Linked DNA regions of Homo sapiens. The protein of the gene in region 1 interacts with the protein of each later gene in a pairwise test. Each region holds a gene or a part of one and is shown in the gene's direction. Other genes may lie near its edges.

The links.
Region 2: the proteins of MAL (region 1) and CD53 interact in binary tests that used the Homo sapiens proteins (3 or more experiments, as listed by UniProt).
Region 3: the proteins of MAL (region 1) and CD300LG interact in binary tests that used the Homo sapiens proteins (3 or more experiments, as listed by UniProt).
Region 4: the proteins of MAL (region 1) and GRAMD1A interact in binary tests that used the Homo sapiens proteins (3 or more experiments, as listed by UniProt).

Annotation. Positions count from the first base shown.
Region 1 is NC_000002.12:95,042,687-95,049,811, forward strand, and holds part of MAL (myelin and lymphocyte protein), read left to right. Parts: intron 1-3,198; exon of another isoform or gene 3,199-3,461; intron 3,462-3,828; exon of another isoform or gene 3,829-4,092; intron 4,093-4,589; exon of another isoform or gene 4,590-5,272; coding exon 5,273-5,440; intron 5,441-6,894; coding exon 6,895-7,020; intron 7,021-7,125. UniProt on the Homo sapiens protein: May be involved in vesicular trafficking from the Golgi apparatus to the cell membrane. Plays a role in the maintenance of the myelin sheath, and in axon-glia and glia-glia interactions.
Region 2 is NC_000001.11:110,868,060-110,876,147, forward strand, and holds the start of CD53 (leukocyte surface antigen CD53), read left to right. Parts: upstream 1-5,088; 5' UTR 5,089-5,189; intron 5,190-6,897; exon of another isoform or gene 6,898-8,088. UniProt on the Homo sapiens protein: Structural component of specialized membrane microdomains known as tetraspanin-enriched microdomains (TERMs), which act as platforms for receptor clustering and signaling.
Region 3 is NC_000017.11:43,857,051-43,864,139, forward strand, and holds the end of CD300LG (CMRF35-like molecule 9 isoform 1 precursor), read left to right. Parts: intron 1-53; coding exon 54-106; intron 107-413; coding exon of another isoform or gene 414-485; exon of another isoform or gene 486-710; intron 711-739; coding exon of another isoform or gene 740-778; exon of another isoform or gene 779-1,184; intron 1,185-4,083; coding exon of another isoform or gene 4,084-4,203; intron 4,204-4,747; coding exon 4,748-4,861; 3' UTR 4,862-6,589; downstream 6,590-7,089. UniProt on the Homo sapiens protein: Receptor which may mediate L-selectin-dependent lymphocyte rollings. Binds SELL in a calcium dependent manner. Binds lymphocyte.
Region 4 is NC_000019.10:35,010,316-35,017,440, forward strand, and holds part of GRAMD1A (protein Aster-A), read left to right. Parts: coding exon 1-64; intron 65-1,158; coding exon 1,159-1,239; intron 1,240-2,940; coding exon 2,941-3,053; intron 3,054-3,225; coding exon 3,226-3,376; intron 3,377-3,873; coding exon 3,874-4,072; intron 4,073-5,508; coding exon 5,509-5,652; intron 5,653-7,125. UniProt on the Homo sapiens protein: Cholesterol transporter that mediates non-vesicular transport of cholesterol from the plasma membrane (PM) to the endoplasmic reticulum (ER).

The DNA of each region.
Region 1 (7,125 bases):
CTCCAGGGTGCCAATAATGTTTTCAAAATAATTGCCTCTTTGCACTGCCACCTGGAGGCTGGGAGCCACCTGGAGTCTCCTTGATGAAAGGAAATGCTTGAACCCTCACATACTCCCTTGCTCTGGACAAATATTTGGCCAGCGGGGTCCTGAGGCCAGGCTGGAACAGATTGCTCTGTGCCCAGGAGTGCCTTAACTCCCTGGTGTGGGTGCCCTTCTTACTCTGTTTGCTCTCTGTACATTTAGTAGGTGGAGCAGGGCAGGAACCAGATTTGACTCATGGTTTACAACAAATCTCAGCTTTGCACACAGCGGGGCTGGAGGCTCACCCTCCCTGGAGCCCCACCTTCTGCTACTCCTTGACCCAAGCCCGGCTGCCCAGCCTTCAGCCTCCAAAGCCCTCACAGCTGCTTCAGCATCCTCTGAGCTTGGCATGTGCCCTTTCTGCCCTCTGGAGAGCCCCTCCCAGTCCTTTGGCCTGGTTAACCAGTTAGGTCCACCTCTCTCTCCAAGGCTCGACTGACCCTATGCACCTGTCCAGGCTGCTCTGCCCACTCGGGGCTGGTTGTCCACCTGCATGTTAAGTGGCTGCTTATGCATCTGTTTCCACTGAGCTGTCAGCCTCCTGCATGAACGACAACTTATTCCCAGGTATTGGTAGTGCTGGGCTCAGTGCCAGAAGCTTCATACTCACATCTGTAGTTTTAGCCAGTTCACACCAGCCCCCAGTGTGGGGAGACTGCTGTGAGTTGCCATTTGCAGAGAGGAAGCTGGGGCCAAGAGGCAGAATCACTTGCTGCAGCGTCCCACAGTGACTTCGGAGGACAGCTCCTCTGAGAACGGGAGTCCCCTGCCAAGGGGAGGGAGCTGGCAGGGCGCCTCTGCATTAGAATTCTCCCAGAGAAGACCGCGGCAAAGGCCTGTGCTCCAAAGGCAAGGGGCATGACTCAGCTGAGGCAACAGCTGTTTCTGTTCCACAGACACCTAGCCGGGAATGAAATCTCTCCTGACTCGGCTGTGCCTTTCCCGTATCCTCCTCTTCTTCTCAGGATTGCTCTTCACCCTCCTCCGCCCTGTCCCCCAGATGGCCCCTGTGACCCTGGGCTCTGCAGTCCTCCCTGGGCATCTCCTGGGCAGTGCTGAGCGGAAGGTCGACCGCCCCACTGCCCATCCCCTGGGAGCAAACCCCTGGCTTTCATGATGTCATCTGTGCTGAGACATCTGTGACTACCTTCACCTTCATATGTTTCTGGGACAGGCAAGGACTGGTGTAAGAGCGTCCCTAGGAACGTGGTTCCTCAGAGGCTTCTGGGTTGGAGGCTCCAGGGACATGAGACACACTCACCCAGGGCCCCCTGAATGGTGGGGTCCAAAAGGGGCACTGTGCAGCTGCAACGGTAGAGATATTCTGTGTAAGTCCCCTTGAGAGAGAATTTCTCACCTGAAGACATTATACTAAATGAAAGAAGTGAGCCACAAAAGTCCATATGTTGAATGATTCCATTCATATGAAAGTTCAAAATATGGAAGTTTGTAGAGATAGAAAGTAGATTAGTGGTTGCTTGGAATGGGGGCAGGGAAGCCACAGCTCATGGGATTTCTTTCCAAGGTGATGACAATGTTCCAAGATTGACTGTGGTGATGGACGCACGTATCTGCGAATATTCTGAAAACCAGGGAATCATACCCTTTCAATGGGGGAACTGCATGGGCTGTGAATTATAGCTCATAAAGCTGTTTAAGAAAAGAAAAAGATAATGTCTCCCCACCATCTCACTATGAAACATACTGCTATAAATATACCATGCAAAGGAAAAAAGTCGGCCTCATTTTTTAAAGGACTCACTTGCAAGGTGATGCCCCCAGAGGCTGGGTGGGGTCCTGAGATCTGTCAGGAGCTGGGGTTAAACCCATAGTGGGCTTTGTTCTATGGACAACTGTGGACAAGGTTCCCACTATAGACTGCAGGAACCTGCGAGCCAGTGTGGGGAGCATGGAATTTCCCAGGGAGCTGGAAAATAGTCTTCATCAGGTTGGTAAAAGCACACACTGGAACAGGGCAGAGTCTGGCCTGACCTCAAGGCCCTCCGCGCAGCTGCCGGAAGCTCAGAGCCCAGGCTGTGGCTGCAGCCAGCAAGGTGCACACAGGAGGCTGTGACCAGCTCTCCACACACTGACTTCCCCTCACTTTTCCTGCCATTGATTCCTCACACCAGTCACATCTTAAGCCACGTGGGAAGAATGGAGTGGAGTGAGATGACTCTGCAGACAGGAGCTGAGGACTACCTTCTCAGATTTGCCATTTCCAGCTGCCATCTGTGCATTAATTTACCTCATATGTATTTTACAGTTAATTTTTCCCAAAATAATGACATTGCAACCATAAGCATAGAAACAATGTCACTATCCGGTTTACCTTTGCCTATCCACGCTATTAGAGAACTCCAGACACCTGGCTCCACCCTGAGCCCTTCTTGCCTTCATCAGAAAAACCAAAGAGAGTAAAGGAGGAGGAAAATCGTTTCCTCACTGTGAAATTCAGTGTTCCTCGATAGCATGTGTATAGGTCACCCGTAAGCGCCTCTGGCCCACGGGGTCCCACTGGGATTCCATAACGGAGTCTCTTCCCAACCATGTGCAACCCAAGCTGCTCCTTTGGGGTTTGGTTCATAAGTGGCTCTAGTTCAGCCACACCCAGGTACCAGGAGACCAAGGCCCGTTAGCTGACTTGGACACCGATGCATGGCTGGATGGGTCTTCTCCTGGTCCCCACCAGTGAGGCAGCTGTGAGCAAGGCAGACCTCAAGCCCACCATCACCTGGTCAGGGAAAGCGCCATGTTATCCCTAACCCAATATACCTGTGTTTGTGCTGAGTGCTACAGAGAAGACGTGCAGGACTCCCTGAGACTGTGTGAACGAGGAAGCAACTTAAATTGGTCCTCCTGGGAGGGTCACGTAGCCACCAGGCAAAAGGCACTTAGGAGAGGGGTTCCCAGGCCAGGGCCTCCCTCTTCCCACTGGATGTGCCCGCTGGATCCTCCTCCTATTTCTCCATGCCACCCTCGCATGCCTCCTGAATCCAAGCCCTGCCTGTACCAATGTGCTCCTGTCCCTCCGTCAGTGCCCGTTATGGAAAAGGCCACATAATCTGTTGAATCTTAAACTCAACTGTGGATGAAATCTACACACACATCTTATTCCATGGTGGTCTGGGCATTTTTATTTAATTGATTTTGCTCCCATTTTTGTAAGATGCACAGTGCATCCCACCGGCCCTGCCACGTGCCTTCAGGCAACCTAAGATCCATCAGCAGAGGACGCTTTCTGGTCAGAGATGCCCACATCTGATTCCTTAGGGACAACTTGGTTTTAATAAATCCAAAGTCTTCATTGCACTGATTTTTCTACCCAAATGCAATTCTCTCCTGATTGCTTCTCAGTCAAGCAGCTCAGAGAACACCTGTGAAGACAGCGGTATCTCTCACCCAGCAGGTGGGCAGCAGGTGCAGGGAGGTGGGGGGGTCAAGGTGCTATGTGAATTCAAACCACAGGGGACATAGGCCTGGGAGGGCAGCCCCATCCTCAGCCCCCCAGACACTTCTGTAGTACCTTGGAGACTTTTGGCTGCAAAGGAATCTCCACATAGGCCTGGAGTGCTTCGAGCCCAGTCCTCATCCAAGTGGGGAACATGTGGATGAGGCTGAGCTGATTCTTACTGGGTGGGGGTGGCGCTGGGGGAGATGAGGAGAAGGGAAAGAGAAGTGCAGAAAGTCCCCGCTGGGGTTTGTACACGCCTGTCCACAGTGAGGAACGGAGTTTGTACGTACCCATCCGCGGTGGGGAGCGGGTTTGTATGTGTCCATCCACGGCGAGGAGCGGGGCTGGGCTACTGAGGGGTGCTACTGGCCCCCATGTCTGCTCCTCTTTGACTGTATGGGGCTCACTGACCCTGGCGACATCAACTGGGGTGTATTCTGGATAACCACGGGACTGTACTTTCCTCATGCCCATCCTCAGCCATCCAAAGAGACAAGGCTGTCCTTGGTTACTCCATTCCAACTCCAAATCTGATCATCAGAACACTTCCTGGACTTGGGAATATAAACAGTTGAATCCAGAAAAAGAAATAATGAGCAAGAGAAAGAAAGAGAGAGAAAGAGAAAGGGAGAGAGAGAGAGAAAGAGAAAGGGAGAGAGAGAGAGAAAAGAAAGAGAGAGAGAGAAAGAGAGAGAAAGAAAGAGAGAAAGAGAAAGAAAGAAAGAGAAAAAAGAAAGAAAGAAAGAAGAAAGAAAGAAAGAAAAAGAAGGAAGGAAGGAGAGGGAGGGAGGGAAGAAGAAATGAAGGAAAGAGAGAGAGAGAAAGAAAGGAAGGGCAGGGCAGGGGACTACTGACAGTGTGGTTAATTTGTTTTGCCAAATAAAGACCAAAAAGATCTGCTGGTCACTACCATTGCATAAAGGAAAGGACATTTTAATATCAAAGCAAGTAGGAGGGCTAGAATATCAGAAGAAATAGCAGCTCTTCTCATGACAATACCAAATGGCATAAATCCTTTCTCAGAATGATGAATTACTTAACTTCCACCTACCTCAGTTTCCTCATCTGGCAAACAGGTCAGCATTGCTCAGAGGGTTACTGTGAGAATCACTGAGTTATTATTTGTAAAGTGCTTAGGATAGTGCCTGGAATGTAGGTCTGATATAAGTGTTTGTTAAATAAAAAAATTAAACCCATATTTAAAAAGTTACTCAGGCCAGGTGCAGTGGCTCACGCCTGTAATCCCAACCCTTTGGGAGGCTGAGGAGGGCAGATCACCTGAGGTCAGGAGTTCAAGACCAGCCTGGCCAACATGGTGAAACCCCGTCTCTACCAAAAATAGAAAAATTAGCTGGGCATGGTGGCATGCACCTGTAATCCCAGCTACTCAGGAAGCTGAGGCATGAGAATCACTTGAACCCAGGAGGCAGAGGTTGCAGTGAGCCACACGCCACTGTACTCACGCCTGGGTGACAGAGCAAGACTCTGTCTCAAGAAAAAAAAGTTTTAAAAAGTTAATCAGGGCAAGCGTGCCGGGGATTGGGATTGAGATCCAGCACAGGGCCCTGGGGGGACTAAAGATGCATTTTTGCAGAGGAAAATGCCTGCCCTGTTCTCTTTGCCTGCTTCCTGTGTTTTTGCACTCCAGTCACCCCATGTGACCGCTGGTCGGGGGCCCTTCCTGGGCTGGGGCTCTCCTCTAGGCCAAAACTCACCCCTCCTCCTCCCCCGCAGATCTTCGGGGGCCTGGTGTGGATCCTGGTGGCCTCCTCCCTGGTGCCCTGGCCCCTGGTCCAGGGCTGGGTGATGTTCGTGTCTGTGTTCTGCTTCGTGGCCACCACCACCTTGATCATCCTGTACATAATTGGAGCCCACGGTGGAGAGACTTCCTGGGTCACCTTGGTGAGTCCAGCCCAGGGTGGCTGCTGGTTGTAGGGGGGCGCAGGAAGTACTGGTCCCTGGCCCAGTAGGATGGGCTTTTCCAGTGCCAGGTGAGACTTCTCCGTAGATGTCACCCCACCATGTTCCAAGGCTGAGCCTGCCCAGGGCTCCTGGCAGCAGAATCAGGAGAGGCAGGGGCAGAGGCAAGGTCGCCGCTGCCAACCCTCACTGGACCTGTTCTGTGTTCTCCTGCATGACTGCCTTTCCATGGATAACCAGCTGCCCAGCCCCCACACCACCTGTACCCGCCAGGTGCCTGCCTGCCCCTCCCATCACCTGCAAGGGCTGTTTTCACCTCAAGGCAGCAGGGCCCCAGAGGCCGACCAAGGTGTTGGGCTCCAGAAATTGGCCCTGGCTCTGAGGGTCAGGCCATGCTTACTGTCCAGCTCCTCAGCCACTGCCTTCCAAGCAGGGCTGCCAGAGAGCACTGGGAAACAGAAGCGGCCTTTGGTCATTATTCTGTATAAATTCTGCTTTGAGACCCATGAAAAGGTAACTTTTACATGTAGGACACTTGCCTGTTACCTGCTGTAGGGGTGGTGGGGCCATTTGGCCAAGGCTGTCACTCTCAAAAGCTCTGCTACTTAGACTTTTGAAATCACTTCCAAATCACAACTACACAAAACCCTGTTTTAGTACCTTTTTGCTTTCATTTATTACTTTATTTTGAGTTGGGGGTCTCATTCTGTCACCCAGGCTGGAGTGCAGTGGCGCAATCTCATCTCACTGCAGCCTCAACCTCCCAGGCTCAAGTGATCGTCCTGCCACAGCCTCCTGAGTAGCTGGGACTACAGGCATGTGCCACCACACCCAGCTAAGATGTATTGTTTTGTGTAGAAATGGGGATCTAACTATGTTTCCCAGGCTGGTCTCAAGTCCTGGCCTCAAGAGATCCTCCTGCACCAATCTCCCAAAGCTCTAGGATTACAGTCATGAGCCACCACGCCCAGCCCTTTTTTGCTTTTAAATATACCAGGGGCCAAAAATAAGCAATGAAACAAAACAAAACAAAACAAAACAAAACGAAAGAAACAGCATGGTCCTCCCTCACCCTGCACTGGTCAGCGAGGCCACACCCAACCTGGACTGTGGCCATGCACGACACTTCTCAGATCCAGGACCAGCTTTTCCCTGGGACACCCCAAGCTGCTGGCCCTTCCTCCACCTCTCCCTTGACCCTTCCTCAGGGGAGACCAGTGTCCCATCCCCAGCAAAGTGCTCACTCTGGCCCCACAGCAGTGAAGTGAGACTCAGCACAGCAGGGCAGGCATGGGACCTCCGTGACAAGGTTGGGAGGGGTGGGATTCAAAGGAAGTGGGGGGAGAGGCAAGGGGCGGGGGTGGAGGGGACCTCAGCTCTGCATCTGGGCCCCGTCTCTCTCTCCCCATCCCTCTGACACCCCGTCTGCCCCATAGGACGCAGCCTACCACTGCACCGCTGCCCTCTTTTACCTCAGCGCCTCAGTCCTGGAGGCCCTGGCCACCATCACGATGCAAGACGGCTTCACCTACAGGCACTACCATGAAAACATTGCTGCCGTGGTGAGTCCGGGCACCTGGGGCTGTGTCCACAGCGGGCGGCTCCGTGGCTGGCAGGGTGTGTGTGGAGGCTGCCTAGGCCCTTGGTCTGTTTTCAGTTCACTAACT
Region 2 (8,088 bases), on another chromosome or scaffold:
GAAATTAGAGATGACAGAAACAAATGGGAAACATTCCATGCTCATAAATTGGAAGAGTCAATATTGTTAAAATGCCCATACTGCCCAAAGCAATTTGCAGATACTATGCTAATCCTATCAAACTACCAACACTATTCTTCACAGGACTAGAAAAAAACTATTTTAAAATTCATATGGAGCTAAAAACAAATAGCCAAGATAATCCTAAGCAAAAAGAACAAAGCTGGAAGCATCATGTTACCTGACTTTGAACTATACTACAAGGCTATCATAACCAAAACAGCATGGTACTGATACAGAAACAGATGCATAGACCAATGGAACAGAATAGAGAGCCCAGAAATAATGCTGCACACCTACAACCATCTGATCTTCAACAAAGCTGACAAAAACAAGCAATATGGAAAGGACTCCATACTCAATAAATGGTACTGGGCTAACTGGCTATCCATATGCAGAAGATTGAAACTGGACCCCTTCCTTATACCATATACCAAAATCAACTCAAGATGGATTAAATTTTAAATCTGAAACCTAAAACTTTAAAAACCCTGGGAAATAACCTAGGAAATACCATTCTGGACAAAGGCCCTGGTAAAGACTTGATGATGAAGATGCCAAAAGCAATTGTGACAAAAACAAGAATTGATAAATAAGGCCTAATTAAACCAAAGAGCTTCTGAACAGAAAGGGAAACTATCAACAGAGTAAATAGACAGCCTGGAGCATGGGAGGAAATATCTGCAAACTATGTATCTGACAAAGGTCTAATATCCAAATCTATAAGAAGGTTAAACTAATTAACAAGCAAAAACCAAACAACTCCATTAAAAAGTGAGCAAAGGACATGAATAGACATTTGTCAAAGGAAGTCACACATGTAGCCAACAGGCATATGAAAAAATACTCAGCATCGCTAATTATTAGAAAAATGCAAATCAAAACCACAATGAGATACCATCTCACACCAGTCAAAATGCCTATTATTAAAAAGCCAAAAAATAACAGGTGTTGGCGAGGTTTCAGAGTAAAGAGAATGCTTATACGCTGTTGGTGGGAATGTAAATTAGATTAGCCAGTGTGGAAAACAGTTTGGAAATTTCTCAAAGAACATAAAACAGAACTGCCTTTTGACCCAGCAATCCCATTACTGGGTACATATCTAAAGGAATACAAATTGTTCTATCATAAAGACACACGCATGTGTATGTTCATCATAGCACTCTTTACAATAACAAAGACACGGAATCAATCTAAATGCCCATCAATGATAGACTGGATAAAGAAAATGTGGTACATATACACCATGGAATACTATGCAGTCATAAGAAAGAATGAGATGATGTTCTTTGCAGCAACATGGATGCAGGTGGAGGGCCTTATCCTAAGCAATTTAATGCAGGAAGAGAAAACCAAATATTGCATATTCTCACTTATAAGTGGGAACTCAACACTGAGTACACATGGACGCAAAGAAGGGAAAAACAGACACTAGGGCCTACTTGAGGGTGGAGCGGGGAAGGAGGGAGAGGATTAAAAAACTACCTGTTGGTCACTATACTTACCCCCTGGGTGATGAAATAATCTGTACACCAAAACCCTGTCACATGCAATTTACCTATATAATAAGCCTGCATATGTACGTTTGAACCTAAAATGAAAGTTAAGAATGATGTTCTACAGCATTTTCTTCAAAACTTTACTCTTAGAGCCCATAAGCAAAATCCAATGTACTACTAGTTAACTTTAATCTCCCATTTGAAGTTTCCAATCTTATAATTCTCACAAAATCTATGCCTCTTAAACTCTAATATCCTTATATACTTAAATAACTCTGAAATAAACTTGGAAGTTCTATCTGTATTCTCATATTTCAACAGTGATTATCTTCCAATAATAAAACAGAACTACTCACTTAGAAGGCTTTTGAAAAAGGCCTAAATGGGGGCTAAATACAAAATGTCTATGTGAGTATTTGTCTATTCAGAATGTATTTTGGCAAATACGACTGCACAGTAGTAGAGTACTCATAATTTGTATTCCCGCTATTCGTCTGGCCAAGTTCAAGTTTCCTAAACTCTCAGATTCTATTATCATCTATGATGGTGATCAATATACCCCGTATTGAGAAGACCAAGCCATGAGTCTGAGCTTCTGCTAAATGCCTTTTCTAATTTAGTTTTTTCAAAGTTTTTGAGCGTTCTTTTGGGTTATTCAATAACATGGGGTTTCCTGATATTGTCTTATTCTCTATTTGTTTTTGTTCTTGTCCCTCCAAATGAATTCTAAATATCTGATGGTCAGAAACAGAATTAATTCTCAATAAAATTTTATAGGTATGGGTATAAGTGGGCACGTTGTTCTCTACCAAACCCCTAAACCCAGGAAACAGCCACCTCTAGTTGTCCGGCACTTGGAACAACCCTTCCCAGTGAAATGATGGAAAGAGGCACATTCAAGGAAAAATGTTCTGCATTAAAATGGTCACCTATTTTGCTGTGAACAATTTGTCTTGAGATAGTCTTCCCGATATTCCTAAGATTCCCCCTTATTTATCACTTCTCTCTCTGCAGATGTTCAGTCTACCTATCTCTTTCTTCTCCTTACTCTCTCTGCCTGTCCCAAATTTCTGGTTCCCCTAACTTGCAGGCCTCACATTACCTGAAACTATTCAAATATTTATAGAACACCTCTTATGTGCCAGACCCAATACCAGGCACTAAAAATACAGTCATGAGCAAGATCACCCAACATACACAGAGTAACACAGAACCTACAGAGCTTTCAGTCTAGTGGGGAAAACAATGAAAAACAAGGAATGACAGAGGGTGGAGGAATGCCTGTGGGCAATGGGAGCAGAGAGCAGGAGTAACTGTTCCTGCCTGGAGGGCTTTCTGGTGCTATGATGGGGGATGAGTAAGGAATTAAGTGAACAGGTGAGAGGATATTCTAGAGAGAGCTCGTGAGACAGAACTAGATTGATTTGTTTAAGCAACTAAAAGGAATTCCATATCCAGTGTTACCCAGTGTGAGGAGATCTTGGGGGTGGGGCCGGGGAAGAAATAGCCGGCTGAGAGTTTTAAGCTGGGGAGTCATGTGATTAAATTTGCATTTTAGAAGGCTCTCCTCCCTTCTTCCTGAGGACAGACTGAAGAAACATCCAAGGTGGTCTTGAAGGACACTGGGATCCTGTAACACAGGTAAAAGATAAAGACTAATGTAATTTCTATGGGGTTGGAGAGAGGTGGTCTGGTTTGAGAAATATTTAGGCAAAAGCATAACTGACAGGACTTGGTGGCTGATAATAGGTGGTGGTGTGGGAGAGAGAGTAGCTTAAGAGGACACCTGGTTTCTCATGAACGTGGCTGAAAGGCCAGTCAGGCCTTTCCTGGATGGTGGACATGGTGGGAGGAGCAGGCTTGAGTGTGGGGATGCCAAGTTAATCAAACTGAAGTTGGATATTGGATTTGAGGTGCCTGGGAGAGAGTGGAGCTCAAAGGAGAGATCATGGCATCTATATAGATTTGTGAATCTTTGGAACAGACAGATAGTAATTAGAGCCATCAGAATGGGTGAGATAATTAGGAAAATATGAGTTCAGCCAGAAGCCTCTCCTCAGCCCCACCACTTCAGGGACCTGTAAGCATGGCAGCAGCTCTGAGTGAGGGTCAGTGATTCCAGCCGAGGTGCAGAGACTTTTTAATAGCATTCCCTAAAGTGTAGTTACACTGAAAAATTGTTCCCCAAGAGAAACTACACACACACACACACACACACACACACACACACCACACAGTTCCATGCTCAGATAAGTTTGGAGAAATCTATATATTATTTCCCCTGCTTAGAGAATATTAAGGACTGACAAGTTCTGCAGTAAAGACCTTTTTACCTTCATTTAATTCAGTTTTCCCCACAAGACAGCCCTGGCTGGAGATTACTCTGGATCTGAATGTCTCAGGGTGAAGGAAGCGGGAGACAGCTAGCTTTCCCAGAGGCATGCCCGCAAGTCAGCACCGCAGAGTGCATCTATCTGTTCATTTATAAGATGAAAACATTGGGGCCCAGTGATTGCTTCCAAGTTTCATAGTTAGCTAGTGATACATTTGGGTTGTCACATACTCCTTTGACCCAATCTAAGAAAATTCCAGTGATGCAGCATAGTGAAACCAGAAACACATTTTTCAAAATATATTGATCACAGTGTTTCTCAAAAGGCCTTCTCTGTGACCTTGAATTTTAATCCTACCTCTGACATGTCTTAGTTGTATGAGCTTGGGCAAATTTTCTAACCTCTTTGAGCGCCTGTTTTCTTGTATATAAATAAGGATGTAACAGTAACCAGTAGGATTATTATTAGGTGTTACCATTAATAAACTGAGGCTGACAGATTGAGACTTGCTCAAGATCTCACAGCTAAAAGAGATAAAGCTGGAACTGAAACTCAGATCTTTGGCTCCAAATGTGGTGTTTCCTGTACTAACCAAATCATTTCTACCAGTGCCCCTGGGATTATGCCTTGGGGACTCACCTTAAGACAGTCTTGCTCTCGAGACAGAGAAGTCTGCAAATGGTGTCCAATTCAAGTCTAGAGACTGGCTGAAGCCAGACAGAGGGAGTATGAGGAGGGGGCAGAGAATCTTCAGAAAGACATTCCAAAGTCTCGGGCCTAGAAAATGTTTAGAAATATTGGTTCCTGTGTTCCCCTCCAGTCTGTCTACCTGAATGGGAAACTGGTGGTGGGGCCAGGCATACTTCTTTTTGAACAAATACACAGTTAATTCTGAGATGCCACCTTGATTGAGAAGCACTGTCCTTTTCTAAGCAAAAATCATTGCCAAATTACCCTAGAATCCACCACTGCTCACAGATCTGTGCCTGAACCAACTTGGTTTTGAAGTTTTCTTTTGTTTCACAAAACTAGTTTAGGGTGGGCTGTGAGAGGAAGCTTCTAAAAAGCCACTGGGAAAGTACTAAATCTCTGAGACTAAAGAGGGCGGACTCAGCCTCACTTCCTCCTTCTTCTCATCTGGGCTTCCTGTCGTCACAGCATGATCATATTTTTTCACCCTTCACTTCTCCTTTTACACAAATAGCCCCGGATATCTGTGTTACCAGCCTTGTCTCGGCCACCTCAAGGATAATCACTAAATTCTGCCGAAAGGACTGAGGAACGGTGCCTGGAAAAGGTAAGGTTGATGACGTTTTAACTTGGCTTGCTGTCTAATGTGGGGTAGGGCGTATTCTTAGGGGTCTCCATATACCTCTCTAGTAACCATAAAATCTCCGGCAACTTCTCTTTCACAAATATTTAGTGCACAAAGTAAAACAGATTAGCAAGATCCTAGTAACATCCCCAAAGGCAATCAGGCCAGAAATACTTTTACTTAATCAGGTTCCCATTATCTAAATCTCTGAGTCGAGGCATTCACATGCCTTAATTGCTTCAGAGCTTGAATTACTCTGTGTAGTAATTCCTGATGCCTGGAGCTTTCTATGCGAGATGACATTGGGGAGATTTCCTATGTGCTCTGGTCTTCAGAAAATTGGTCTTGTGATTTTAAAGTGAGGAAAGAACCCACAGCCAGAGCTGTCTTTAGAAAGACAGCTAGAAGACACAGTTCTTTTTCATTTGAGAAAATTTCAAAAGTAAATTTAGTGACTCCCACTGTGGTTCTTCAAAGCCACTAAATAGAAAGGTGGCTAAAAATCAAAACACCAGGATGTGCTCAGTAACTGTATTTTAAAAGGTGAAAGCTAGACATCTCTAAAGGATGCATAGATTGTTGGCTTTTAAGGAGCAGGAAGCACATTGGGATCCTCAGCATTTCCCCAAATTATCCTTGGTGTACAAAACATGACCACTGATAAATGTCACATGAAATGCACGTATAAAATGCAATCCCCAAAACTTGATACTGCAGTAATTTCCAATCATGTGCTGTAACTAATGACTGAGGTTGCATGGACTCAGCAAAGTGTTAGCAGAGCTTCGGTCCTGACTCTCTGTGACCACCATCGGAAACTCTATGTAAGAGCTTTCTTCTTCCAAGACCTGTGAGAATTTCACTTGATTATGCCCTGGAGCAGAAAGGAGAAAGTTCTCTTTGATTACACCCACCCATCTAAGTATGAGGATTGGGAACAGGGCAGAGGGCTCTAGATTTCCAAGAGGGGTGGGGACGGGGAGAGGGCTCTGGATTCCCAAAACACCTCAGAGTTTATTGAGCCTTGTATTAAAAAATAAAAAGCAGTCTTTTAAATAAATTCACTTAATAATCAAGTGGTAGGTGCCTCCTGAGGCCAGGCACTGTGCTTTGGGAATTGTGGGGGAGGGAGATGAAAAGGTAGAAGGAGAATATTTGTCTAGCAAACAGTCCTACTCTTAAGGAACTCCCATGGGAGATAAGAGATATCATACTATGCGTGTGCTTTGGAAGAAAGCTGAGAAAAAGCAAACTCCCAGCTGCTGGACAAACAAAGAGGTTTTGCTTTCTCAATCTTGAGGAGAATCTGTACTATTTTGAAATTGTGGTTGAATGGGAGCAAAGACTGAACTGAAACATTATTTCCTGTGATGTTTCCTGTGTGGGCCAGTTAAGAACACTTAATTTTTAAATGAAAGGATTGGGTACCTTTATATTCATGAGGAATGATTCCAAGTTCATGCCTTCACAGCTATGGTTACCACCACCTAAGTGACCTCACCTTTGTTCACTGACAAGAGGCACAAACTGGAAAGGACAAAGTCTGTTGGTCCTTGGTTTTTTGTGCCCTCTGATTGACCTCTGACTGCACAGAGGCCCTCGGACTCTGGTTCTCCTTTCCCACTCCTACCCCATGGCCAGATATGGCACTTGGTGCTGGAGATACAGGATAACAGAAAAGATTATCATCTGAAAGGAGTTGTAGAGTTTATTATGGATGACAGTCACAGCAATATACAAATACAGTGCAATGTGCTCTTTTCTATAATAGATGGAGAACGTGCACAAACTGTAGGAGTTAGGAGTGTGCCAAAAACTGCCTAGAGAGGTGACTGGTGGGTTCACTTTCACAGAAGTATGGGTTTGCTATGGAGACATTCTAGACCAAGGGTGCTGTATATTCAAATTCAAAGAAGTGTGTACCTCCAGGCATGTTAGAAATGAGAGAAAGCAAGTGAGACTGCAGTGTAACACACCATGTTTACAGAGCCACATGAAGTGGAAAGCCCTTTCTCCTACTTGGCACCAGAAAGTGGAGGGCAAGATCGCTCACCAGGCAGGTCCTAGGTCCAGCTCTGGGTGGGGCTATGCCCACCATGTTCACACGACAGAATTGATGGGATGTGGGTTTGAAATGAGGGAGAAGAGGCAGGTTTTTGCCTCCTCAACCTAGATTTTCACTTAGAGCAGAAGGAAGGGTGGAGCTTCTTGTGAGGTTACAGCCATTGTTTTCAGCTTAGCTTCTGTTCCAGGAAGTACTGCATTGATTCAGTTATAGTGGTTTGTTCTGCGTCCCTAGATTAGTCAGCCTAGGGCACTTCTTGTACCAAGCAAGCATCCACTGTGTGTAGATCACCCTGGGCCCTAGAGACTGGGCACCTGTCCTCAGGAAGCTCCTAGGACCCATCTGCCACTGCAGGTGCAGGGCACTGAAGCAAAGTAACCCAGAGAAAACAGACAGCTATGCAGAGCAGGACTCCAGCATGGCTGCTGGGGCAGAGGAGGGAAGGATTGAGCTGGAGGTTGGGTGGTCAGTTTGAGAAGGCTGTCTGGAGGTAGGTTTTGGGAAAGAGAAAGACATGCATTTGCAAAGCCAGTGGATGACCACTCAGAGTAAAGGCCAGGAATCTCTATACTGAGAGTTAGAGGTGAGTGCTCTCTCTTCATTATCCATTTCATAAGCACACAGCAGAATTTCTACCCAAGCAATAGCATCAATATGTCATAGCTCTGACCAAGAATTATTGTAAAAGAAAATATGACACAAGCATACATTTTTATAATCATTTAAAATGAGAGTGCTATATTCCAAGAATTAGAATATTGGTACTTCAAGCGAAGTTAGAGATTATTTAGATTCAAATAAAGTATCTTAACTCAC
Region 3 (7,089 bases), on another chromosome or scaffold:
CACTCCCGGCTACTCCTGGCTTCAAGGGGCTCCTCCTTCTACATCTCTTTCAGCTCAACAGGCCACGGAGACACAGAGGAACGAGAAGTTCTGCCTCTCACGCTTGGTAAGGACAGAGGCATATGGAAGCCCAAGCTCAGATCCCCTTGGGGCTGGAAGTCAAGATTCCTGGGCTTTGCCTCTGTGACTTCCTACCTGGTCCTCCTTGCCTGACCTAGAGGCAGCGCTTGCTCCCCACCTTGGAGGAATGTGTGTGAGCCCCAAGATCAGCCCTTCAGGGTGTGAGCCGGACACAGTGCCCATGGGGGACTCACAGGTGGGAACCTGATTTCCCGCCAGGTGCCAGGCAGGGTGGGCTCCAGGAGCCATGTGAGCATCTTCTCCAGGCGCCTTCTTTCCATCCCCCCTTTTAGAATCACAGAACATCAGAGCTGGATCCAGATGAAGCCTTTGAGATCTCTAGCCTGACTTTTCTCTCAGTTTGAAGCAAATCGCCTTTCAGAACGCCCAGGGGTCAGGGAGCTGTTAGAGATGCACTCTCCAGGGCCCCAGACCCAGCTGAACCCTCCAGGGGTGGGGTCCAGGGACTCTGGCAGTGCTACAAACTCTAGTGTGCTTTTACAAAAGATGAGACTGAGGCCCAGAGAGGGTAAAGGTCTTGCCCATGGTCACACAGCAGGTGGTGGCCCAAACAGAGAACAGGACCCAGATTTCTTGACTCCTGCTCTTCTCTTTCCAGAACTCCCTGATGTTTTCTCTGAGCCTGCCTTGGCTCTGAGACCAAGGTGGTGTGGCTGCTCTGGGACCCAGGCTGAGGGTGGTGCTCTGGGGACCAGGGGCAAGAGAATAAGGGTCCCTGTGCCCATTGTCTGGAGCTGGGAACCTGCCCCAAGGCTACTGCTGCAAGAAGAGACTGTGCCCTCCGAGGCCAGCACTCCAACGGAGGGGGCTGCAGCATCGCACTTCAGGCAACAGAAGCCCCTCCTGGCCCCTCCTCCCTCTGCTGTTTACTGAGATGCCTCCACTCCATTCCTTTAAACACAAGGGCAGGAAAGCGGAGCTACCATTGCCTTCTTTCCTGGCGCCAGTGAGGACAAAAGACTCAGGCCTGGTCACCCCAAGGAGGGTCTGGGGTGGAAATGGGACTTTGGGCTGTGGCTTAGGAAGCAGCTGTTGTTGTCTCAGGAAGCTCAACAGGGCCAAAGGTAGCAGAGGAGAGTAAGGGAAAAGTCATGGAGACACACGGATGGATGGACGGTGGGTGCCACTGGCCACCTCCAAGCCCGGCCTCCTGGCTCTGCGGGCTAGGGCCTGGGTCTCACCCCACCTAGCTCCAGAAGAGGGGCTGGGGTCCAAGGAGGCTGAGAGCGCCGGAACCAGCCACAGCTCCCATGCTACTGCCTTCTGGCAACCCTGAGAAGGGCTGCTTTGGGCTTTTTCCTGCCTGAGGCTCCTGACCCTGGCTCTGCTGAAGAGGGAGGGGACAGGAAGGGGCACAGGGCCAGCAGGCAGAGGGGCTCTAGGGGGCGGCCCCTTGTTGAGGGAAAGATGGAACAGGGCCTCCCAAGAGGGTCAGAGGCAAGAACCCTGTAAACACGATCAGGTGGGTGCTTCTGCTTTTTCTTGATTATTTCCCTTGTGGCTTCTCCATAGGATTTAGCAGAGTCTGGAGATGGAATTGAAGGGGTTTGGGGCTTTCTTTGTCCACATTCGGGTCAAAGAGGGAGGGGGATGCATTACTTATACTTTGAGAGGCCTCACAGGGGTGTGAAAACCCTGAGGGAAGTCTTAGGGGTCAGACCAGCATTTTCTTTCCCTAAGAGATCTTGCTAGAAGGACTGCCATCCATCCATTCGTCTGCCTCATCTTTTATTGAACACCTACTACGTGTCAGGGGCTTTATATATGCCAACGAATCCTCATCATTCCCATACGAGGTAGAGTTTAGTATCCCCTTCATTTTGCAGATGAAGAAATACAGGCTCAGAGAGAAAAGGGAAATTGCCCAGTGACCCAGCCTGAAAGAGGCAGAACTGGGGAGGCTGACAGGTCTATGGGGCTGGCTGCAGAGCCCTCTGCGTCCTCCACCCCGCTGCACTGAAGTACAAGGGGTTTGAGGAATGGAGCCAAGTTCGCAGCCCAAGACTCCTCCCCCAGACTCAGGAGAAAGACCCTGGGACAGCTGCAGACCCTCACTCCTGGAAATGAATAGCCTGCTAAGCTCCGATCAGAACTCAGCCCTGGCTTCCCAAGACTTCCCTCTTTCTTTATTAGGTTTATTACTAGTACCTAGAAGCAGAGCTCTGATATATATCTTGCATATTTAGCAACCCAGAAAATGCCTCCATGCTTGCTGGAACAGGGCCGATCGTCCACAGTGGAGGCAGAGGGGCAGGGGAGAGGTTGCAAATCACACCAGACTTGCGATAGTGGGCCTGGCTGCTGCCTAGGTGTGCCGTTTGGCCTCTGCACTGCGAGGCTCTTTCCTCAAACTCAGTCACCCTGGAACAGGTGACACTTCTGCAGCTGCTGGTGGTCCAGGGTCAGCAGTGGCTGGGTTAAAACCAGATTGCAAAGCTGTAAATATGGACTCATGGGTCTGATGTCAGGAGTCCTCTGGTGTAGCCCCAGGTCTGCCCTGCACCAAGGCCCCCTCTGTCCTCACCATGGGCAGGGCTAGGAGGGACAAGGGCCCTAAGTGGCAGCATTTGGGAATTGCCTTACCCCTCCCAGTGCCCTCATCCACCACCCACACTTCCCCCAAGGAATTCTGCTCTAATTCCTACCTTGTCCCCAGAAGGCTGAAGATGTCATCCCTGTGTTTCTTTTCTTTGGTATATATTTTATCTTTTTAATTTAAGGTTTTAGAGAAATGGGGTCTCACTATGTTGCCCAGGTTGGTCTCAAATTGCTGGGCTCAAGTGGTCCTCTAGCCTCAGCCTCCCAAAGTGTTGGGATTACAGGCAAGAGCCACCACACCCAGGCTTCATCTTAGCATTTCTAACAAGATTTGGCTCAAACATCTGCCTCTGCCCCCATCCACAGCAGCTAGGTATTGAGAGAAGCTGGGCCCCGGTTAGTAGACCATGGACACCGAGCCCAAGAGGAATGTGTCACACACCCTGCCCGGATGGCAGCAGGGTATAGGGAAAGAGCTTGGGTCTGCAGTCAGACAGTCTCCAGTATGAGTCCCAGCTCAGCCATGTGCCAGCTGTGTGATGTCAAGCAGGTTGCATCACCTCTCTGAGCCCCTGTTGCCATAGCTCACATAGTTGTAAATAGGAAAGAGTGAGATGATATACCCTATACATGCCCAGAAAATGGGAGCTTCTTTCTCTGGCATCAGTGCCCATTTGGCCATGGGATTCACTGTCCAGGAAACCCCAGGGCAGCCTGTGGCCTTGGGAGTCTTGGCTGGGGAGCTTGGCCGGCTCCAGCCTCTGCTCCGCCCACCTGCTAGGGCAAGGCCTGAGATGGACGGGCCTGGCGTTCCTGATCTGAGGACCCATGGGAGCAGCCAGGCCCGGGTCAGAATATGGGCTTCCCCACTGACCCTGGACTACCTGCTGTCTTCCCTGGGCCGTGGTCTCCTCATCTGATGGATAATGGATTGCTCAGACCCATCATCTCAAGAATGTTTCATGTGTCCCTTGTTATTCGACGAATCTTTGGCGTGTCCAACTTTGCTGTCTCTTGGCCTGTTACAAAGAACCTGCAGCCTGCATGATCTTTCTGCTTTAAAGGATAGAAAATAATGAAAACAAATAAGTCATTCCAGAATTTCTCATTGGTTGAGTGGTAGGATGCTATTATGAATATTATAATCCCAAAGGACAAATTCTTACCTAGTTTTACAGCTGAGGAAACTGAGCTTCAGAGAGGTGAGACAGCTTGTCCTTCCTTGGACAAGACAGGAAGGAAGGAAGTGGCAGAGGCATCCAGGAGCTTAGTATTCTCCCCTCCCGGCACCTCCCTGCCTTGCCCACCCCTCCCACGTTTCCCTCATCTTGCTTGGGCTTGGCTGGGCTAGCAGACCATCCCTGCTGCCAAGAACAGGCTGTTCTGACCAAGTCTCTGTTACAGCCACTGGGGAATGGCCGGGACCCAGAGGACGCTGTGATCAACCTTGCAGGGCCCATGGGGTCTCTCACCATCCCCGAGCCCTCTCCCAGCCTCTACACAGAGATCCAGTATCTAAGCCAAGTATGGACAGAAGGGCCCTGGGAAGGGAGGGGCTGAGGAGCCACCTTGCCTGCCTCCACTCTGACAATTAGAGGAAGTGGAAGGAGGCCTTTTCCTCAGCATCTGCTCCCCAAACCCCACACCCCCGCATCTACCCACCTTCCCCATTCACAGCCATAGGCCTAGCCCATTTCACCTGGGAAGCCAGAGCTTTTGACCTCACATCCTCTTTTTTTCCGGTCCAGAAAATTCCTGAATAGCTTGTTGGGAGTCACAGCTGACAGTGCTGTGGGCTGCACTGCCCTCAAGGCCACAACTGCGCCAGAACCCAGCCTGGGGCCTTGAGGGCACCCCGGGGGAGGGATGGATTGGGGTCATGAGAGGCCATGAATCAAAGCCTGGGAGTTCTGGGGAGTTGTTAGGTCCTGTGCCTCTGCAGATGGACGGAGGGCTGGAACTTGTGGAAAAGGCTGGGTGGACGCAGCAGCTACCTGGGGACCACCCCTCACACCTCCCACCCCTTCATCTGGGTTCTGCTCTCCAAACCCCACTGTTGTCTTTACAGACTGCGGAGGAAAAGGAAGCCCCTTCCCAGGCCCCTGAGGGGGACGTGATCTCGATGCCTCCCCTCCACACATCTGAGGAGGAGCTGGGCTTCTCGAAGTTTGTCTCAGCGTAGGGCAGGAGGCCCTCCTGGCCAGGCCAGCAGTGAAGCAGTATGGCTGGCTGGATCAGCACCGATTCCCGAAAGCTTTCCACCTCAGCCTCAGAGTCCAGCTGCCCGGACTCCAGGGCTCTCCCCACCCTCCCCAGGCTCTCCTCTTGCATGTTCCAGCCTGACCTAGAAGCGTTTGTCAGCCCTGGAGCCCAGAGCGGTGGCCTTGCTCTTCCGGCTGGAGACTGGGACATCCCTGATAGGTTCACATCCCTGGGCAGAGTACCAGGCTGCTGACCCTCAGCAGGGCCAGACAAGGCTCAGTGGATCTGGTCTGAGTTTCAATCTGCCAGGAACTCCTGGGCCTCATGCCCAGTGTCGGACCCTGCCTTCCTCCCACTCCAGACCCCACCTTGTCTTCCCTCCCTGGCGTCCTCAGACTTAGTCCCACGGTCTCCTGCATCAGCTGGTGATGAAGAGGAGCATGCTGGGGTGAGACTGGGATTCTGGCTTCTCTTTGAACCACCTGCATCCCAGCCCTTCAGGAAGCCTGTGAAAAACGTGATTCCTGGGCCCCACCAAGACCCACCAAAACCATCTCTGGGGCTTGGTGCAGGACTCTGAATTTCTAACAATGCCCAGTGACTGTCGCACTTGAGTTTGAGGGCCAGTGGGCCTGATGAACGCTCAGACCCCTCCAGCTTAGAGTCTGCATTTGGGCTGTGACGTCTCCCACCTGCCCCAATAAGATCTGCTCTGTCTGCGACACCAAGATCCAGCTGGGGACTCCCCTGAGGCCTGCCTAAGTCCAGGCCTTGGTCAGGTCAGGTGCACATTGCAGGGATAAGCCCAGGACCGGCAGAGAGTGGTTGCCTTTCCATTTGCCCTCCCTGGCCATGCCTTCTTGCCTTTGGAAAAATGATGAAGAAAACCTTGGCTCCTTCCTTGTCTGGAAAGGGTTACTTGCCTATGGGTTCTGGTGGCTAGAGAGAAAAGTAGAAAACCAGAGTGCACGTAGGTGTCTAACACAGAGGAGAGTAGGAACAGGGCGGATACCTGAAGGTGACTCCGAGTCCAGCCCCCTGGAGAAGGGGTCGGGGGTGGGGGTAAAGTAGCACAACTACTATTTTTTTTCTTTTTCCATTATTATTGTTTTTTAAGACAGAATCTCGTGCTGCTGCCCAGGCTGGAGTGCAGTGGCACGATCTGCAAACTCCGCCTCCTGGGTTCAAGTGATTCTTCTGCCTCAGCCTCCCGAGTAGCTGGGATTACAGGCACGCACCACCACACCTGGCTAATTTTTGTACTTTTAGTAGAGATGGGGTTTCACCATGTTGGCCAGGCTGGTCTTGAACTCCTGACCTCAAATGAGCCTCCTGCTTCAGTCTCCCAAATTGCCGGGATTACAGGCATGAGCCACTGTGTCTGGCCCTATTTCCTTTAAAAAGTGAAATTAAGAGTTGTTCAGTATGCAAAACTTGGAAAGATGGAGGAGAAAAAGAAAAGGAAGAAAAAAATGTCACCCATAGTCTCACCAGAGACTATCATTATTTCGTTTTGTTGTACTTCCTTCCACTCTTTTCTTCTTCACATAATTTGCCGGTGTTCTTTTTACAGAGCAATTATCTTGTATATACAACTTTGTATCCTGCCTTTTCCACCTTATCGTTCCATCACTTTATTCCAGCACTTCTCTGTGTTTTACAGACCTTTTTATAAATAAAATGTTCATCAGCTGCATATTCCATCCTATCAGTGTGTCTCAATTTATTTAACCAATAGTCTATCACTCGATATTTAATTTGCTTCCATTTTTGCTATTGTAGATAAGTGTGGGTGAAATTTGCCTGGGGGTTTATCTGCATTGGGAGATTTCTTTTCCTTTTTCTTTTTTTTTTTTCTTGGAGACAGAGTCTTGCTCTGTCGCCCAGGTTGGAGTTGAGTGATGCAATCTCAGCTCACTGCAACCTCCACCTCCCTGACTCAAGCCATTCTCCTGCCTCAACCTCCCAAGTAGCTGGGACTGCAGGCATCTGCCGCCACGCTCCGCTAATTTTCGAATTTTTAGTAGAGACGGGATTTCACCATGTTGGCCAGGTCTTGAACTCCTGACCTCAAGTGATCCGCCTGCCTCAGCCTCCCAAAGTGCTGGGATTACAGGCATGAGCCACTGCACCTGGCCGGGAGATTTCTTAAAGAAGGATTTGCGTGCATGGAAGTGCCAGGTCATAGGGAGTGAACATTTTTGAAGT
Region 4 (7,125 bases), on another chromosome or scaffold:
GAAGAAGGAAAAGACGGCCAAGCTGATCCCCAACGCCATCCAGATCTGCACGGAGAGCGAGAAGGTGACGGAGGACCCGGTGACGGGACCACGCGGTCCCCCGCTCAGCAGGCCGCCTCCCCCAAACATGCAAAGCCCCATTTGTTCTGCACCCTGAGTTCTCTCCGAGCTGTCCCCTTCTCTCTGTTCTCCCGGCCCAGGCGCCCATCACCCCTGACCTGATCCCCGCACCAGCCTCTCCTCTCTTTCCCTGCAACCTGTTACCTCACACAGCTGCTCAGGAACAGCAGAAATAGTAAAACTCTTCCATGTATGTGGCACCTCAGCCGCCCCTCCCTTCGTAAGTCTCCCCGATGTTGTGTCCTGTCCCTGTCATTGTGGCCTCATGTCCGTTGGTTGCAAGATGGCTTTCTCACCAGCGGTCCAACAAGAAGGGGGACAGGTGTGGGGGACACTTCCCAGCAGACTTCTCTTTGTGTTTTGTTGGTTAAAAGTGGATCTGGCCAGGTGTAGTGGCTCATGCCTGTAACCCTAGCATTTTGGGGAGGCTGAGGCAGGAAGATTGCTTGAGCCCAGGAGGTTGAGGCTAGCCTGGGCAACATAGTGAGACCCTGTCTCTTAAAAAGCAAAAAATTAACCAGGTGTGGTGGCACGCACCTGTAGTCCCAGCTACTCACTCAGGAGGCTGAGACAGGAGGATGGCTTGAGCCCAGGAGGTTGAGGCTGCAGTGAGCCGTGATCATGCCACTGCACTCCAGCCTGGGTGACAAAGCCAGACCCTGTCTCAAAAAAAAAAAAAAAAAAAGGATCAACTGACCATTCTTAGTGGCAAAGGAGGCTGGGCAAGTTCCCTGGGCTCCCCCCATCACATCCCAGCCCCTCTGGGCTGACCCTGTCTAGAGATGCATCTGTCCCCTCCTTGGACTGGGAGCTCCAAGGACAGGGCCAGGGGTCGTCTCCCCATCCCAGTGATTCTGGAATTGTCCAGGGCAGGGCCGGGCGCAGGACAGACGTTTTGTGGAACTAATGCAGGGGTGAATTAGTGGATTCATGGGGCCAAAGATGTGGCGTCAGCGCAGATGAGGGTGGCGCTTCCCCACCTCTGTCCTGGTCGCTCCCCAACCTGCTCACACCTCTCTCTCTCTCTCTCCCTGACAGCATTTCTTCACTTCCTTTGGGGCCCGTGACCGCTGCTTCCTCCTCATCTTCCGCCTCTGGCAGAATGCACTGCTTGAAAAGGTGGGCCTGGGTGAGGCCCGGGTGGGGATGGGGGGTTTCCAGGGGGACCATGGAGCCAGGGACCCCAGAACTTGCGGAGCTGGAGGCAGCCCTGGCTCTTCTCCATGGGCACCAGGCCCAGTGCCCCTGCAGCTCCTCCCTGGGCCCCACCTGACCCCGAAGCTGAGTCTCTGGCAAAGGGACATGAATTGGTGTAAACCGTCGTAATTCTTCCCTGGGGCTGGGAATGATTTTCACCCTGAAGGACATCCAGGTTCCACTGGCAGCGGGGGAGTGTGGATAGAGGCTGGGAGGTCATCACAGGATGCCGGCTATGGCTGGTCCACAGCACCTCAGAGAGCCCCAGCCCCATCCTCCGGCTGAGCGGCACTCACGCGCTGCCTTCTCAGAGGCTCCGATGTCCCTGGAGCAGGCAGGAGTGCTGAGGGTCCCATTCAGCATCCTGAGAGAGGGACAGCGCACAGTCAGGCCCTAAGGAGGACAGGGCAGAGCCCCGGGATTCCAGCCCCATCCCCTGGGGCAAGTGATTGAACCCCATCTGTCAAATGGGGGCCATCCCCACTTCACAGCACCCAGAATTTTGCCCAGAATAAGTACTCAGTCATGTCAGCTCTTATGAGCAGAGTAGCCCAGCGGTTAGCTCCCTCGCCACCCCCTCTGCCCCCCGGCTGTAGACCAGCTCCCCTGGGGTCACATCTCAGCACTGCTACTTCCTGGCTGGACCCCAGCATGTCACCTTGCACTTCTCAGCACCATTGTCTTAAAAGGATGATGAGGTTAGCACCTACTTTCCAGATGGTTTTGAAGATACAGTGAGTTAGTACATCTGTAAAGTGGTTAGAAGAATGCACCTAGTTGACCAGGTGGCAAATGTCTGCTGCTATCATCACTTACTGTTAACTGTCATCACTGTCATTCAGCCACTCTGGCCATGGGTGGCTGAAAGCTCAAGGCTCCCGAGGACACCTGGGAAAAGATTCGGGGGGCCACGATGGCATAGGCATGGGAGACTCAGCCCTGGAGTCTGGCAGGGCTTGACCAAGTCACTTGGTGACCTTGAACACATGACTTTCCCTACATGACTTCCCCTTCCTGGGACTCCGTATGCTCTGTAAAGATGGGAACATTCATGGCTGGGCACGGTGGCTCATGCCTGTAATCCCAGCACTTTGGTAGACGAAGACGGGCGGATCGTGGTGCCCACGAGGTCAGGAGTTCGAGACCAGCCTGGCCAACATGGTGAAACCCCGTCTCTACTAAAATTGCAAAAATTAGCTGGGCGTGGTAGCACGCACCTGTAATCCCAGCTCCTTGGGAAGCTGAGGTAGGAGAATCGCTTGAACCCAGGAGGGAGAGGTTGCAGTGAGCTGAGATCACACCACTGCACTCCAGCCTGAGCGACAGAGCCAGACTCCATCTCCAAAAAACAAACAAAAAAAGATATAAAAAAAATGGGAACATTCTCTGGCCAGAGTATTGTGGGGACTTGGGAAGCAGGAAGTTTGAGTCCTGGGCGCAGGCCCTGGAGGGGCTGTAGCAGGGGATTCCCCGCTTGCTGAGGCCAGGTCTGGTGCGGGAGATCGTGGCTGCCTCCTTGTGGAAGCCAGGGGAACTGCGGAGGCCGAGGGCTGGTGGGGAATCTGGCGGGCCGGGCTCTGGCTGGGGTGAGATGGAGGCCAACCCCAGGTCCCGCCTCCCCAGACGCTGAGTCCCCGCGAGCTCTGGCACCTGGTGCATCAGTGCTACGGCTCAGAGCTGGGCCTCACCAGTGAGGATGAGGACTATGTCTCCCCCTTGCAGCTGAACGGTCTGGGGTGAGTTGGAGGTCAAAGGAGGTTGAAGGGTTCGGGGGAGAACAGGACGGTCGGCGTGCAGAGTTCCTGGAGTGCTGGGGGGCCTGAGATGGTTGTATGACGTCTGGAGGATTCAGGAGGGTGTATGGGGTCTCAAGGACACAGCAGTCCCGCTTCCTCCCCTTTCCCACAGGACCCCCAAGGAAGTGGGAGATGTGATCGCCCTGAGCGACATCACCTCCTCGGGGGCAGCTGACCGCAGCCAGGAGCCAAGCCCAGTGGGTTCGCGCCGTGGCCATGTCACGCCCAACCTTTCCCGAGCCAGCAGCGACGCAGACCATGGGGTGAGCGGTGGGTTGGAAGAGGGGTGGGATACTGATAGGAAGAGAGAGGAGGGCTGGGGGTGCAGTGGGAGAAGAACAGCCTGACAGATTTGGAGGGGAATGGATAGGGGGACAGGGGAGGCCTGGATGGAGGAACAGGACAGGGAGGGGAAGACGGACATGTGACAGGGAAAGAGAGACAGGGAAGAGAGGGGACAGACAGAAAGGATGAGAGACAGAAGGGATGGGAGATGGGTGGATAGATGAAGCAGCAGACAGACAGACGGACAGGACAGGTAAGAAAGCTTATGGCTCAGGCATCTGAGACAAGCCTGGCAGGGGCTGAGAGGGGCCCTCATCTGGGTGGCCCCAGGCTGCTCGCAGCTCAGCCGTGAGCCCTCGGTGCACACACCACCCCGGGTCTGCACAGGCTCTGGAATCCTTGTGGCCAGTGTGGACTTGGGAGCCCTGGGGCTGGGATGGAGGTGGCCAAGGCTGCATCGGGCCTTTCTCCACAGGCAGAGGAGGACAAGGAGGAGCAGGTAGACAGCCAGCCAGACGCCTCCTCCAGCCAGACAGTGACCCCGGTGGCTGAACCCCCGAGCACAGAGCCCACCCAGCCTGACGGGCCCACCACCCTGGGCCCCTTGGATCTGCTGCCCAGTGAGGAGCTATTGACAGACACAAGTAACTCCTCTTCATCCACTGGGGAGGAAGGTGAGGCAGGCGGGCCCAATTCATTCGCCTCCGGTACTTGCAAGCCTCGCTCAGTCTTAAGCAAGAGGGGATGGATTCGCCCGCAGCACTGAGAATCCAGGGGCAGGCGGGATGGCGTTCAGGCGCTGTTGCTAGAAATCTCTGTCTTTACTCTGTTTTGAAGGCAGCATGGCAGGGTGAACACAAGCACAGACTGAAGGCAGCTTGCCGCGGTTCACATCCTGGTCACACCACTTCCTGACCATGTCACGTGGGCAAATTATGTAACTTCTCTGAGCTTGCTTTCCTCCTCTGAAAATGGGGTTAACAATGATAATACCCACTTCATAGGATTGTTGTTAAGAGACTATAAATGAGGCTGGGTGTGATGGCTCACACCTGTAATCCCAGCACTTTGGGAGGCCAAGGTAGGAAGGATTGCTAGAGGCCAAGAGTTGGAGAACAGCCTGGGCAGCAAAGCAAGACCCCGTTTTGTACAAAAAAGAAAAAAAAGAAAAAACTAGGTGTGGTGGTGCACACCTATAGTACCAGCTACTTGGCAGACCAAGGCAAGAGGATCACATGAGGCCAAGAGTTTGAGACAAGCCTGGGCAACATAGTGAGACCCCTGTCTTTACAAAAAATTTAAAAATTAGCCAGGCATGGGGTCATGCACCCTATGTAGTCTCAGCTACTGGGGAGGCTGAGGCAGGAGGATCGCTTGAGCCCAGGAGTTGGAGGCTGCAGTGAGCTATGATTGCACCACTGCACTTCGGCCTGAGCAACAGAGCGAGACCCTGTCTCTAAAACGAACAAAGGGAGAGAATTAAGTGATTTCATACATTTAAAGCACTTGGGCCAGTTAGTAAGCATTGACTATTAGTATTTCTATTATCATTATTGTATTCATTTTCTCTCTCCACTAATTTTCAGCTAGCCTCTATTCTTGTCTCTTATGGGGCAGAGATGGCCTCAGCCCTGCCCCAGACCAGCCCAATGAGAGAGAGCAGCCTATTTTTCCTAGTGTCTACAGCGGACACCCTAGGGTTGGCTCTGATTGGGCCAACTTGAGAGTGTGCCTGCCCCTGAACCAATCACTGTGGTTGATCGGATAGACCTGGGCCACCCACTCACCCCTGAACCAATTGCTGTGCCCCTAGGTTGATGCTCCCAGGAGGCGTGCTATCTGGTAATGAATCCCTGTGATTTAAATCTCAGGGCCTAGGTGTGTTCTCCACCCAGAACCAAGCACAGTGGCTGTCTGTCTGGGCCTGGAGCACGTGCCCACCCTCAACCCATCCCTGAGTCACAGGAGGGCTCTGTGTCAGTGTCCAGCTGTGCTCCAGGAGGTGGGGTCCGCCCATGCACACTACAAGGCCTGGGAGTGGGGAGGCGTGGCCCGCAGAGGGAGGGAGGAGTGGAGGCAGTCATCATCCTCGGCTCTCCTCTGTCTCCAGCGGACTTGGCTGCCCTGCTTCCCGACCTCTCCGGCCGCCTCCTCATCAACTCTGTCTTCCATGTGGGCGCTGAGCGGCTCCAGCAGATGCTCTTCTCGGACTCGCCCTTCCTCCAGGGCTTCCTACAGCAGTGCAAGTTCACAGGTCAGCGGGCGCATGAAGGAGAGGCTGAGGTTACCCAGGTGCAGGGGAGGGGTGAGGAAGGGTAGCCCAGGACAGGGGAAGGCACTGCTAGCCAGTGGGGCAAGGCGAGGTGGTGAAAAGCAATGTCTGTCAGACCAGAAGCAGCTCTGCCACTTACTAGCTGGGTAGGCTTGGGCAGAGTTCTGAGATGCTCTGTGCCTCAGTTTCTCCTTCTGTATAATGGGGGTATGATAATAGTACCTGGCTTATTGGTTATCATGAGAACTAAGTGAGTTCATACTAGAAAAGTTCCTAGAGCAATACCATATAGTAAGCGTTTAATAAATACAAGTTAAGAGGCTGAGGCGGGGCTGGTGCGGTGGTTCACACCTGTAATCCCAGCACTTTGGGAGGCCGAGGTGGGCAGATCACTAGAGGTCAGGAGTGTGAGACCAGCCAGGGCAACATGGTGAAACCTCATCTCTACTAAAAATACAAAAATCAGCTAGGTGTGGTGGCACACACCTATAGTCCCAGCTACTTGGGAGGCTGAAGTGGGAGAATTGCTTGAACCTCGGAGGCGGAGGTTGCAGTGAGCTGAGATCACACTGCACTCCAGCCTGGGTGACACAGCCAAACTCTGTCTCAAAAAAACAGGGGCGGGGGGTGGGGTGCTGGGCACAGTGGCTCACGCTTATAATCCCAGCGCTTTGGGAGGCCGAGGCAGGTGGATCACCTGAGGTCAGGAGTTTGAGACCAGCCTGGCCAACATGGTGAAACCCCATCTCCACTAAAAATACAAAAATATTTTAGCCAGGCATGGTGGCGAGCACCTGTAATCCCAGCTACTCAGGAGGCTAAGGCAGGAGAATCACTTGAACTCGGGAAGCAGAGGTTGCAGTGAGCCAAGATCGTGCCGTTGCGCTCCAGCCTGGGCGACAGAGCGAGACTCTGTCTCAAAAAAAAAAAAAAAAAAGGTGGGAGGAGGGCCAAGGTGGGAAGTTCATGTCAGCCCAGAAGTTGGAGACCAGCCTGGGCAACATAATGAGACTCAGTCTTTACAAAAATAAAAAAAAAAATTAGCTGAGCATGATGCTGCCCACCCGTAATCCCAGCTACTCTGGAGGCTCAGGTGAGAGAATTGCTTGAACCCAGGAGGTGGAGGTTGCAGTGAGCCAAGATCATGCCACTGCACCTCAGCCTGGGTGACAGAGAGAGACTCCATTAAAAAAAAAAATGCTCCTGAGGCCTCCCCAGAAGCCGAGCAGATGTCGGCATCATGCTTCCTATACAGCCTGTGGAACTGTGAACCCATTAAACCTCTTTTCTTTATAAGTTACTGAGCCTCAGGTATTTATAGTAATGTAAGAATGGCCTAATACAGAGCTCCTCAGCCTGACACGCCAGCCCTTTTAGGACATAAGCATAGTTTTGGGGGCCTTGTAGCCCCCCAACACAAGGCACCATCTTCCTGACTGCAGGGGATACTGCATG